Linked DNA regions of Homo sapiens: region 2 is linked to region 1. Evidence: fine-mapped expression QTL. A gene starts in region 1. The other region holds a variant in brackets. All regions are shown on one strand. Distances are from middle to middle. Region 1 holds the start of PUS7L (pseudouridine synthase 7 like). Region 2 has its middle 49 kb from the start of PUS7L.

Evidence for each region. PIP is the estimated chance that this variant, and not a neighbour inherited with it, causes the effect. A credible set is the group of variants that fine-mapping cannot tell apart.
Region 2: its variant is the best candidate, but not a certain one, in a credible set for the expression of PUS7L in whole blood (TOPMed, PIP 0.77).

What each region holds. Positions count from the first base shown.
Region 1 is chr12:43,755,652-43,761,032 of GRCh38, forward strand. It overlaps PUS7L (pseudouridine synthase 7 like), which reads right to left and starts at 3,139. Exons shown (of 9, transcript NM_031292.5): 1 at 3,079-3,139. IRAK4 (interleukin 1 receptor associated kinase 4) reads left to right here and starts at 3,300. Exons shown (of 12, transcript NM_016123.4): 1 at 3,300-3,365. RefSeq lists enhancers at 2,827-2,876, 3,217-3,326, 3,947-4,006.
Region 2 is chr12:43,707,573-43,712,953 of GRCh38, forward strand. No RefSeq gene overlaps it. Among named protein-coding and RNA genes, the nearest start is that of PUS7L, 49 kb to the right of the region's middle. The variant T/C (reference allele first, on the strand shown) is at 2,905.

The sequences.
Region 1 (5,381 bases):
TTCCAGCTAATTCCAGAGAACATGTGGCTAAGTTTTCTTATATTATTAGTGGTTAGTGACAGGAGAGGTGACAAAAAGACAATAGGAAAACTGATGGGTAAATGAAGTTCTAAATACAAATTTGTGATTTGATTATATTTCAAGGTAGGATTAAGTCAGTCCTGGGCCTTCTCTAATGCCCCCATTAGGACAAATAGAAGCTTTCAAGGTTGAGCCAGAGGAAAGTTCTAACTATATCATTGGCATCAGACAGAAGAAACCCTTACAGAGCTTCCTGGAAACACTATGCAAGAGAATAGTACTCTGATCTCTCACTTTTCACACAAACCCATGGCTACCATACCATATGGAGCTGCAGGAAAGATAAATTGCCCAGGGGCCCCATACTAGTGAGTTCTGTGTTTCCCCCACATTCTCCAAGTAACTTATCATCATCTGGACCATCATCTCATACCTATAATGTATTCTACTAATCTGAACCAATTTAGCAAATCACACCTTCTCAATCCTTTCCATCATGCCATATAGAAATCACTACAAATTCTCCATATCCTAATTTCCTAAGGAATATATAAGATATACTTACTTTCCTTAATTACTTAATTTCCTGTACAGTTCCCTCACTTTCTTGCCCTAATTGAAATCTGGCTATTTCTTCAGGCTGCTTCTTCTTCAGTCCTCTCAAGTAAAGGCTATTTTTTCTTTCCCACCCATCTACCTTAGGACCTGGAGGCTGTAAATATTGGTCTATGTTTGTCACTGTTCGTTGCAAGCCATTTCTTCCTCTACTACCTCCAAAAACCCCAATTCTTTTGAAGAGCCTGCCATTGGGCTTTACCATCTGCTGTCATCCTCTCTCGGATCCCCAGACAACTCTGCTTCATTCACTGATCTCTGGCTCACTACCTTCTTATCCAACATGATTTTTATGATCATCTATATGGATCATCCATTCAATGTCTTGGACCCTCAAGTCCTCAATCTCAACCTCAACCTCACACCTCTACTTCATCTTGGTCATCCACTGTCACGGTCATAACTTTGACTTTCTCATCTCCAAAAACTGCATTAACCTTAAGCATCTGATTCTTATGACTCCCAATGTCCTTTATCACACCAACTTTAATACTTCCATTCCAAAAACTTTTAGATATTGTGAAGGTCCCTAACTCCTGCTTCTATAACTAGCCCACAAACCAGCCAGAATGGTCTTAAAAGGTAAATTAAATCATATCACAATCCAGTTTAAAACCCTCTAGTCACATTTGCAATAAAATCCAAATTACTCACCCTGGCTTCCAAGGACATCTAAGATTAGGGACCCTGCTTATTCTCCAAACTCATTTGTACCTTTACCCCATTACCCACTATACTCCAGCTACTCTGGCCTTCTTCAATAGTTTTGTGCTAACTGTTCCTGTTGTTTAAATTGTTCCCTCCCCAATCATATAGCTGCATCTTTTAGGATTCATTTCCTCAGAGAAGTTTTTCCTGACCAATAATCTACAGGAACCTGCAAGTGATTCTCTTTTTTTTTGAGACGAAGTCTCACTCTGTCGTCCAGGCTGGAGTGCAGTGGCATGATCTCGGCTCACTGCAACCTCCGCCTCCCGAGTTCGAGCGATTCTCCTACTTCAGCCTCCCGAGTAGCTGGGACCACAGGGGCGCGCCACCACGCCCGGCTAATTCTTGTATTTTTTTAGTAGAGATGGGGTTTCACCATATTGGCCAGGGTGGTCTTGAACTCCTGACCTCGTGATCCACCCGCCTCGGCCTCCCAAAGTGCTGGGGTTACAGGCGTGAGCCACCGTGCCCAGCAAGTGATTCTCTTTCACAAAACCCTATTTAATTTTCTGCATAGCAGTTCTAGGTAAAGTTTTTCTTTATTATTTATTGTATATCTCCTCCAAAGAGAATGTTAGTTCCACGTGAGGAGTAACCTTGTCTGCCTTATTTACTACTGATGATCACACATTTTGAACAGTGTCAAGCACATGGTAGGTCTGCAATAAATACTATTGTTAAATAAATGAAATAACTAGTACAAAATAAGAGCTGTAGGAATGAAGTGGAAGATAATTAGAAGAGGCATAATGCAAGAAGTGGCCATCTAAGTCCTCCATAGTTCAAGAGATAGAAATGAGGCAGAGACCTCACAAGTAATGTACAAACAAAACATGCAATGTGTGCAAGAAAAACAAGCAGTCCAGATACAGAGCAGTGGGGATGGGAATGCAGGGAGACTACAGTGCTGGAAAATGTAGCTGAGTTAGTACCAGATTATGGAAGATGTTGAATGCCCTGACAAGGACTTAGAATCTATTGGGTGGTCAATGGATGGCTACTGTTAGTGTTTGAGTAGAAAAGTGACACAATTCCAAAACATGCTTTTGGAATTGTAAGATGATTCTGATGGAAATGAGCAAGATGTATCCGATGGAGTAACAGTTAGAGGAGTTCAAAAACAAAACAGCATGGTCAAGAACATAGCTGTAGGGATTGGCCCTGAAAGAATAATGATCTTTTCTTTCTCCCAGAAAAAAGGAGGAAGACAGACATTCTAAGCAAGTGAAACAGGTAGGGAAACTTGGGGAGAATGTAATTCCAGCATCCTGGTAGAAGAGTGGAACTGACCTGGAGGACAGCAAAGGAGCCCACGTGGCGTTAAGCCTGAAGGTGCAGTATTCCCATTCAACAGAGACTGCTGCTGACAGTGGGCGGGGGAGTAGTTTGCTTGGCCCGTGGTTGAGGAATTCGTTGGCGGAGGAGGGATCCTGAGAAGGTACTAGAAATACTGAACCCAGTCCTGCAGAAGCTACTTAACTTCACAGAAAACTAGGGCGTCGTTGCCCTCCAGCACGTCCAAAGGTGTCCCCGACAAGGCCAGCAGCTCTACCTGTTTCTTCTCCCTCCTCTTACTCTGCCTGTCCAAAGGCACGACACTAGTCCACGTCACCTTTCTTTGGGCGCAAAGGGTATGGATCCTCAATGCCAACCTCGTCACCCCCCCCCCCCACACACACACACACACACACACATACAAGCCCACCATCGCGCAAGAAACTCGACCCCGTCTACCTCGGTTCAGTGGAAGGCATTCATTTGCACAACGCTGTGCGCATGCCCGGAAGCCTTAAGTGTTTCAGCCTCCGACAGGGGCGTAATTAAAGGGGCAGGCGCCCACGTAAAGACGCGCCCTACGCAATACGTGGAGTTTCTCACTTTGTGGAGCCGCCTGGAGGCGCCAAGATGAAGCCCATCGGGGAAGTGGGGCGGGGCCAACCCGGCAGGCCCCGCCCCTTCGCGGCGCTTCCTAGTTCGGCTGGTTCTTCTGTCGCCGGCTTCAGCAGCCCGCGCCCGGGCAGGTAAGGCATTCCCCGCCTTAATGCCTCGGTCAAACGTCGTCCGAGGTCCGCTTCCAGGCCTCGGCACCTCTGCCCCAGGGTTGCTGGGGTCGGCTGCGGAACGGAAATCTCTTTATCATCCGTGAGAAAAGTTAGAGAGGAAGTGGGTTCCTTTGACAGAGCTTACTCCAGAAGAAAGACTTGGGTAGGTCCCCGGTAATCAAGAAGTTCGTCGGCCCTGAGGAAGAGCCTGAGGCTTGGAGGGACGTCACCCAGCTGTTCTGGGGCGCAGTCGGACCTCAAGTTTCTCACCTCTCAGGCCCTGGATTCCGTGAACCCGACTGCGAAATGAAGTCTCTTTTCCCCAGAACCAGGAAGTCAGGCCAGCACCTGACAGATGCCTGTGGCGCCAGCAGCTCGCTGAGCCTCCACACGATTGTAATTCGCTTGTTTCTCCGGCCTCCAAGCTTCCAGGGAATTAGAAAGTGGAGGCGGCTTATGGGATCAGATGAGTACATTCGCAGATGGGGGAAAAAAGTGTACCTGTCAGCTTGGAAGCCAGAGGGAGACAAAGGGATAAAAGCAAACCCTGTCCAGGTGCGGTGGCTCATGCTTGTAATCCCAGCACTTTGGGAGGCCCAGGCGGGCGGATCGCTTGAGGTCAGGAGTTCGAGACCAGCCTGGCCAACATGGTGAAACCCCTGTCTCTACTAAGATACAAAATTTAGCTGGCATAGTGGCGGGCGCCCGTAATGCCAGCTACTCCGGGGGCTGAGGCAGGAGAATCGCTTGAACCCAGGAGGCAGAGGTTGCAGTGAGCCGAGATCGTGCCACTACACTCCAGCCTGGGCAACAGAGGGAGACTCCGTCTCAAAAGAAAAAAAAAAAAAAAAAAGCAAACCCTGAGAAAGCGAGAAAGCACTTTGAGCATTTAGAATGGGAACAAACGGCGCTATTAGTGCTTCAAAAACGTAACTGCCCAAGGCCCCTGGTAAGCAGAGGATACTAAAATCTGCCTTTTCCCTTTCTTGGAGTGGTCCTTGAAGAGGGCTATCGGGAAGTTCAAATTTCTTCTGTTTTCCTGCAGAGCGTTCATTTGAAGTTTGCTTTCTACCTCTCCAAACTGAGCTTCTGATATTCCAGGCCAAACTTGCTCCTTCCTCAGCCTTCTCTATCTCAGTAAATATCGGTAAACTTGGTTATGCTGTCTTCTCACTCTCCACATCAGCCCATAGCTTTCTATTGGCTCCACCTCAGAATCCTAGGACTTCTGCACTTGCTCTGCTACGACCCTGGTCCCAGCCTGCAGCACGTCCCACCTGGCTTATTGGTAGGCTCTCCTAAATGCTTCTTTCTTGCTTCTCTGTCCTTACTCCAACATCCTTTATTCCCAGCAGCCCCAGTATCCTTCTAAGACATGAGTACAGAGCATGTCTCTTTTCTCAAAACTTCCAGCATCTACATCTCACCCAGAGGATAAACAAAGTCAATACAAAAACTCTAAGGCCCTTGAAGACCTGGCCCCTTTACCTTTCTGACCTCATCTGCTACTTGCCTGTTCCCTCCTCTGCAGTCTCACCATGTCCTTGCTGTTGCCCAGTGGGCCCAGTTCCAACCTTTGCATTTACATTTCGTTTTGTCCACAAACTTTTCCCACAGATAGTCCAGTGGCTGGCTTTCTCCTTCTTTTTGACCTTTAATCAAATGGCACCTTCTTATTGAGGCTTCCTGTGACTACCATATTTATAATTACAACCTTTTCTCTATTTCGTTTTGTTCTTTCATTTCACTTGGCACCATCTAACATACTATAGAGTTTATTTATTTGCTTATTGCCTTCCTTCCTCCATTAGAATATAAACTCCATGAATTCAGGTTTTGGTTTTGTTTTGTTTTTTTTCTCTAATTTTCCTAATGCTTCATCTCCAGGGGCCTGGAGCAGTATCTAGCACAAAGTAGACACTCAGTAAATATTTGGTGAGTCAATGGTATTATATTTTGTTTTTTAAATATATGCAAAGCATTTTCAATTACTTA
Region 2 (5,381 bases), 48 kb before region 1:
AATACTATTTTTGTAACACATGATTTTAAACTGATAACAACTTAACCCTGTTGGTATAAGCAAACAAACAAGAAAAAGAAAACTACTAAAGGCTCTACTCTTTAAGTTTGTCCCCCAACTTTTTAACTATTGTTGTTTCTATTTATAGCTTACCATACTACCTGTGTCTTGAAAAGTTGTTGTAGTTATTATTTTTGATTTGTTCATTGTTTAGTCTTTCTACTTGAGATAAAAGTAGTTTTCAAACCACAGTTACAGTGTTATTATATTCTGTGTTTTACTGCGTGCTTTTGTATTACCAGTGAGTTTTCTACCTTCAGAGGATTTCTTAATGCTCATTAACATCCTTTTATTTGTCATTGAAGTACTCCCTTCAGCATTTCTTGTAGGACAGGTCTGGTGTTGATGAAATCCCTCAGCTTTTGTTTGTCTTGGAAAGTCTTTATTTCTCCTTCATGTTTGAAGGATATTTTTGCCAGATATACTATTCTGGGTTAAAATTTTTTTTCTTCCAGTACTTTAAATGTGTCATGCCACTCTCTCCTGGCCTATAAGGTTTCCAATGAAGAGTCTGCTGCCAGATATAGTGGAACTCCATTGTATATTATTTGTTTCTTTTCTCTTGCTGCTTTTAGGATTATTTCCTTATTCTTGACTTTTGGGAGTTTGATTATTAAATGCCTTGAGGTAGTATCCTCTGGGTTAAATCTGCCTGGTGTTTGATAACCTTCTTGTTCTTGGAAATTGATGTCTTTCTCTGGGTTTGGGAAGATCTCTGTTATTATGTCTTTGAATAAACTTTCAGCCCTTATCTCTTTTTCTACCCCTTTTTACAAGCAATTACTCTTAGATTTGCTCTTTTGAGTCTACTTTCCAGATTCTGAAGGCATACTTCATTCTTCCTATTGTTTTTTTCTTTTATCTCCTTTGACTGTGTATTTTAAAATATCCTGTCTTCGAGCTCATGGATTCTTTCTCCTGCTTGATCAATTCTGCTATTAAAAAGAATCTGATCCATTCTTCAATACGCCAATTACATTTTTATGCTCCAGAATTCTGCTTGATTCTTTTTAATTATTTCAATCTCTTTGTTAAATTTGTCTGATAAAATTCTGAATTCCTTCTCTGTGTTATCTTGAATTTCTTTGAGTTTCCTCAACACAGCTATTTTGAATTCTCTGCTGAAACATCGGATATCCTATTTCTCCAGAATTGGTCCCGGGTTCTAATAAAATTTATCTATCATATTTGTCTGATAAAATTTTTCTGGTAGAATTCTGAATCCCTTTTGTGTTATGTTTAATTTCTTTTAGTTTCCACAACACAGCTATTTTGAATTCTCTATCTGAAAGGTAAAATATCTCTGTTTCTCCAGAATTGGTCCCTGGTTCTTTATTTAGTTTATTTGGTGAGGTCATGTTTTCCTGGATGGTCTTAAAACTTGTAGATATTTGTCTGTGTCTGAGCATTAAAGTGTCAGGGATTTATTGTAGTCTTCTCATTCTGGGCTTGTTTATATTCATCCTTCTTGGGAAGTCTTTCCAGATGTTTGAAATGATGTGGGTATTGTGATCTAAGCTGAATCTGTGTTAAGGGGCACCACACGCCATTTAATATTGTGCTTCTTTGCAGACTCACAGAGGTACTGCCTTGATGGTCTTGGAAAGGTCCAGAAGATTTCCCTGGATTACCAGGCAGAGACTCTCATTCTCTTCCCTTACTTTCTCCCAAACAAACAGATTCTCTCTTTCTCTCTCTCTCTCTCTCTCTCTCCTCTGTTCTGAGCCAACTGGAGCTGGGGGTGGAGTGATACAAGCTCTCCTGTGGGCACTGATACCGGAACTGTGCTGGGTCGGATCTAAAGCCAGCACAGCACTGGGTCTCACCCAAGGCCTGCTGTAACCACTCCCTGGCTATCGCTTGCAACCTCTACAATCAGCAAGTGGCAAAGCCATCTAGGTCTGTGTCCATCCTTTCATGATGGCAATCTTTTTCAGGACCTGGGTGAGTCCAGAGCTGCCATCTTGGAGCCAGGAACTAGAGTCAAAAACCTTAGAAGTCTACCAGGTATTCTATTGTACTGAGGCTAAGCTGGCACTCAAATCACAAGATGCAGTCCTTCCCACTCTTCTCTCCCTTTCCAAAGTCAGAGGAGCCTCACACCATGGCCACTACCACCACAGGCCCACAAGAAGTACTACCAGACTACCACTGATGTTCCCTTAAGGCCCAAGGGCTCATAAGTCAGCTTATGGTGAATGCTGCCTGGCCTGGGACTCACCCTTCAAGACAGTGGGCTCCCTTCTGACCCAGGGCAGGTCCAGAAATGTCATCCAAGAGCCAAGTCTTGGAGTCATGGAACCCAAGAGCCCACCTGGTGCCCTAACCTTCTGTGGCCAAGCCAGTACATAAGGTGCAAGACAAAGTCTCCTTTACTTTTGCCTCCATTTTTCTCAAGCTGTAACCAGGGGAGGAATTTCATCATGTAACCACTACATCTGGGAATGTGCTGAGTCTCACCTGAGGCCAGCGAGTCTCAGAGTCTCACCCCCCTGACGTAGTACCTGGGTATTGCTGCTGGTTATTCAGGGCCCAACGGCTCTTCACTTAGCAGTTGATGAATCCTTTGAAGGACTAGATCTTTCCCTTCAAAGCAGCAGGTTCCCTTCTGGTGCAGCATGTATCTAGAAATGTCATCCAGAAGCTGGGGCCTGGAAAGGGGGGCCTCACGACTCTGGCTGGTGCCCTATCCTGCTGTAGCTGAGCTGGTATCCAACATGCAAGACATAGTCTTCCCCACTCTTCCCTCTCTTCTCCTTAAGGAGAGGGAAGGAGTCTTGAAGCCATGAGCTGTGCAGCCTGAGGTTAGGGGAGGGGTGATGCCAGCACTCTCTTGGTTGCCCC[T/C]GCCAGTGTCTCAGTAGGTCACATGTCCCCCCATTCCACTGGCTCTGGGCCCAGTTCCACATTAGGACTCAGCTAGGAGTTCAGGTGAGTCCTTTCAATCTTTTCAAATTGCCTTTCATGATTATTTAGGTCCCAAGAGCACTTTAGCTCACAGTGGCAAGGTTTGTGGGCACTCAAGTTCAGACCGCTGGTATCTGCCATTCCCCTCTGGCTAGGGCTGATTGGAATGCTCTCTCTGTGGGTGGGCATCAGCTGAATTTGGTCCAGTTTTGTTTTCTGCTATAATAGGGCAGCACTGAATCAATCCCTTTCTCAAGTGCACAGAAATGCTCTCCGCACCATGCCACCACTATCAGAGAATGGGGAAAGAGTGGTGTTGGTGATTGAAGACTGTTTTTCCTACCTCTTCAGTACCTCTTTCAGTTATGTGAAGTTAAAGCCAGATACTGTGAGTGCTCACCTGATTTTTTGTTCTTATGAAGGTGCTTTTTTTGTGTAGTTGTTAAATTGGTGTCCTTGTTGGGGGGAGACAATCGGTGGAGCTTCTATTCTGCCGTCTTGCTCCACTCCCCTCCCCTAACTCTTTATTTTTCAGTTTCTATGTCACAACCTTAAGAAAGTCCTTCCTTGAATTCCCTCTCTATAGTCACTTTCTACTTGCGTCAATCTGTTTGTTTATTCTGTAATACTTACCAGATTTTTTAAACTTACTTGTTTATTGTTTACCAGCTCCCTCCCACCATCTTCACTAGAAGGATCATTCTCTGTCTTGTTCATTTCTGTGTCTCCAACTCCTAGAGAAATATTTGACATACAGTGGGCACTCAATAAATATTTCTTAAATTAAATGAAATACAAAGCATAACTTTTTAAGTATCTGTTTCTTTATCTATATATTGGATACAACATCTGTATGAGAATCAAGAAAATAGTCATGAGAACCTTCTATTACAGCACCATTACAAATGTATAATTACAGTCATACATAAAATATTAGAAGTAGAGGATTGTTAAGTTCTTCAACAGTTACCTCCCGGGCTGTGAGTTCTTTGAGGTCAGGAACTATGTCTATTCCCCTTATCACTGTTTACTTCATGCTTAGCCTAGTGTCTGCCATGTAAGTAAATATTTGTAGAATGAACAAATGAGTCAATCAATGAGCATATCATCTCTCTGCCTCCAGAGAGACTTTCATCTACGTGGAATAAGTTTAGTTGTAGTCCTTCACAAAGAATTACATCAATAGAATTGTCTTCTATTCTTCATTTACTCAGTCATAAGAATTATTGAGTACCTACTATGTGCCAGGCACTGTGCCAGGTGCTGAGGATACAATGATAAAAACCCACAAACCAACAATGTCCCTGCTCTCATGGGACCTCATAGTGTTTTTGCTATACTCCTTAATCATTTCTACTTGTATAAAATTGTGATTGAAAGATGCTTCCACTCTTTCAATGTTATGGGATTTAATTTTTTATGTTTGTAAATATATGGCCAGTTTCCATAGACTGCTACATTGGCAATGAAAACAAGTTTTATTCTGTATTCTCCATGCATATAGCTCATTTTATATATATAAAATATCTACCTTATGAATTAACATAATTCTTTCATATCTAAACATATTTTTTCCCACTTACCCTGTCATGGATGGAGGGAAGTGAAGAGTCCTAAAAGTAGTATATTTCTATCTTTCCTTCTATTTATATAATACCTGCTTTTGGACTGATGAAACGCCTTTTATTCAATGCATAACTATTCCAGCTTATTTTAATTTTGTAATCTGGAAGTTTTAGCACTATAAAGCATCCTTCTTTGTCTTATTTAATGATTTTGACTTGAATTCATTCTAAACTGATATTAACATTATGACCTTTGCTTTCTGTTCATATTTGCCTTTGTTCACGACTTTATATATGAGCACTTTGAATCTATTTGTTTTAGGTGAGCCTGTATCATACAGGATAGAGTGAGATTTGCTTTCTGCTATGATATGACATATATATGGCCTCATTTTCCTCACAGTTTTATTTTAAATTGATAGTTTGTGTCAGAAGCCAAGATGGAATTAGACATGCAAAAGGTTTTGGGGATTAATGACTGACAGATAATGAAGAGAAGGAGCAAGAGTAGGCAGGAAAAGCCTTCAGACCATGGTATGGGTCTGAAACTTGAGAAGAGGGAGGGGAAGGAAAGGATAGTTGGGTTGGGTAGGAAGATCCTCTGACTGCAGTGCAGCTCTGAAAAAGTCATGGCCAACCTTACAGGGAGCTCCAGAACAAAGACTGTGCATTAGAGAAGCCTCACATTGGGCACAGATGTGGCCTTAATATCCCTGCCCTGCTAAGCACTGGTGGAGTTGCAGGAGAGAACATGTCCTTGTCGTCAACGCTGCAGCACATCCTGAAAGTATGTAGGTAACTAAACGCAGGCCTGTAGCTAACTGCATGCTGCCTGCCAATCTCACTCTTGGA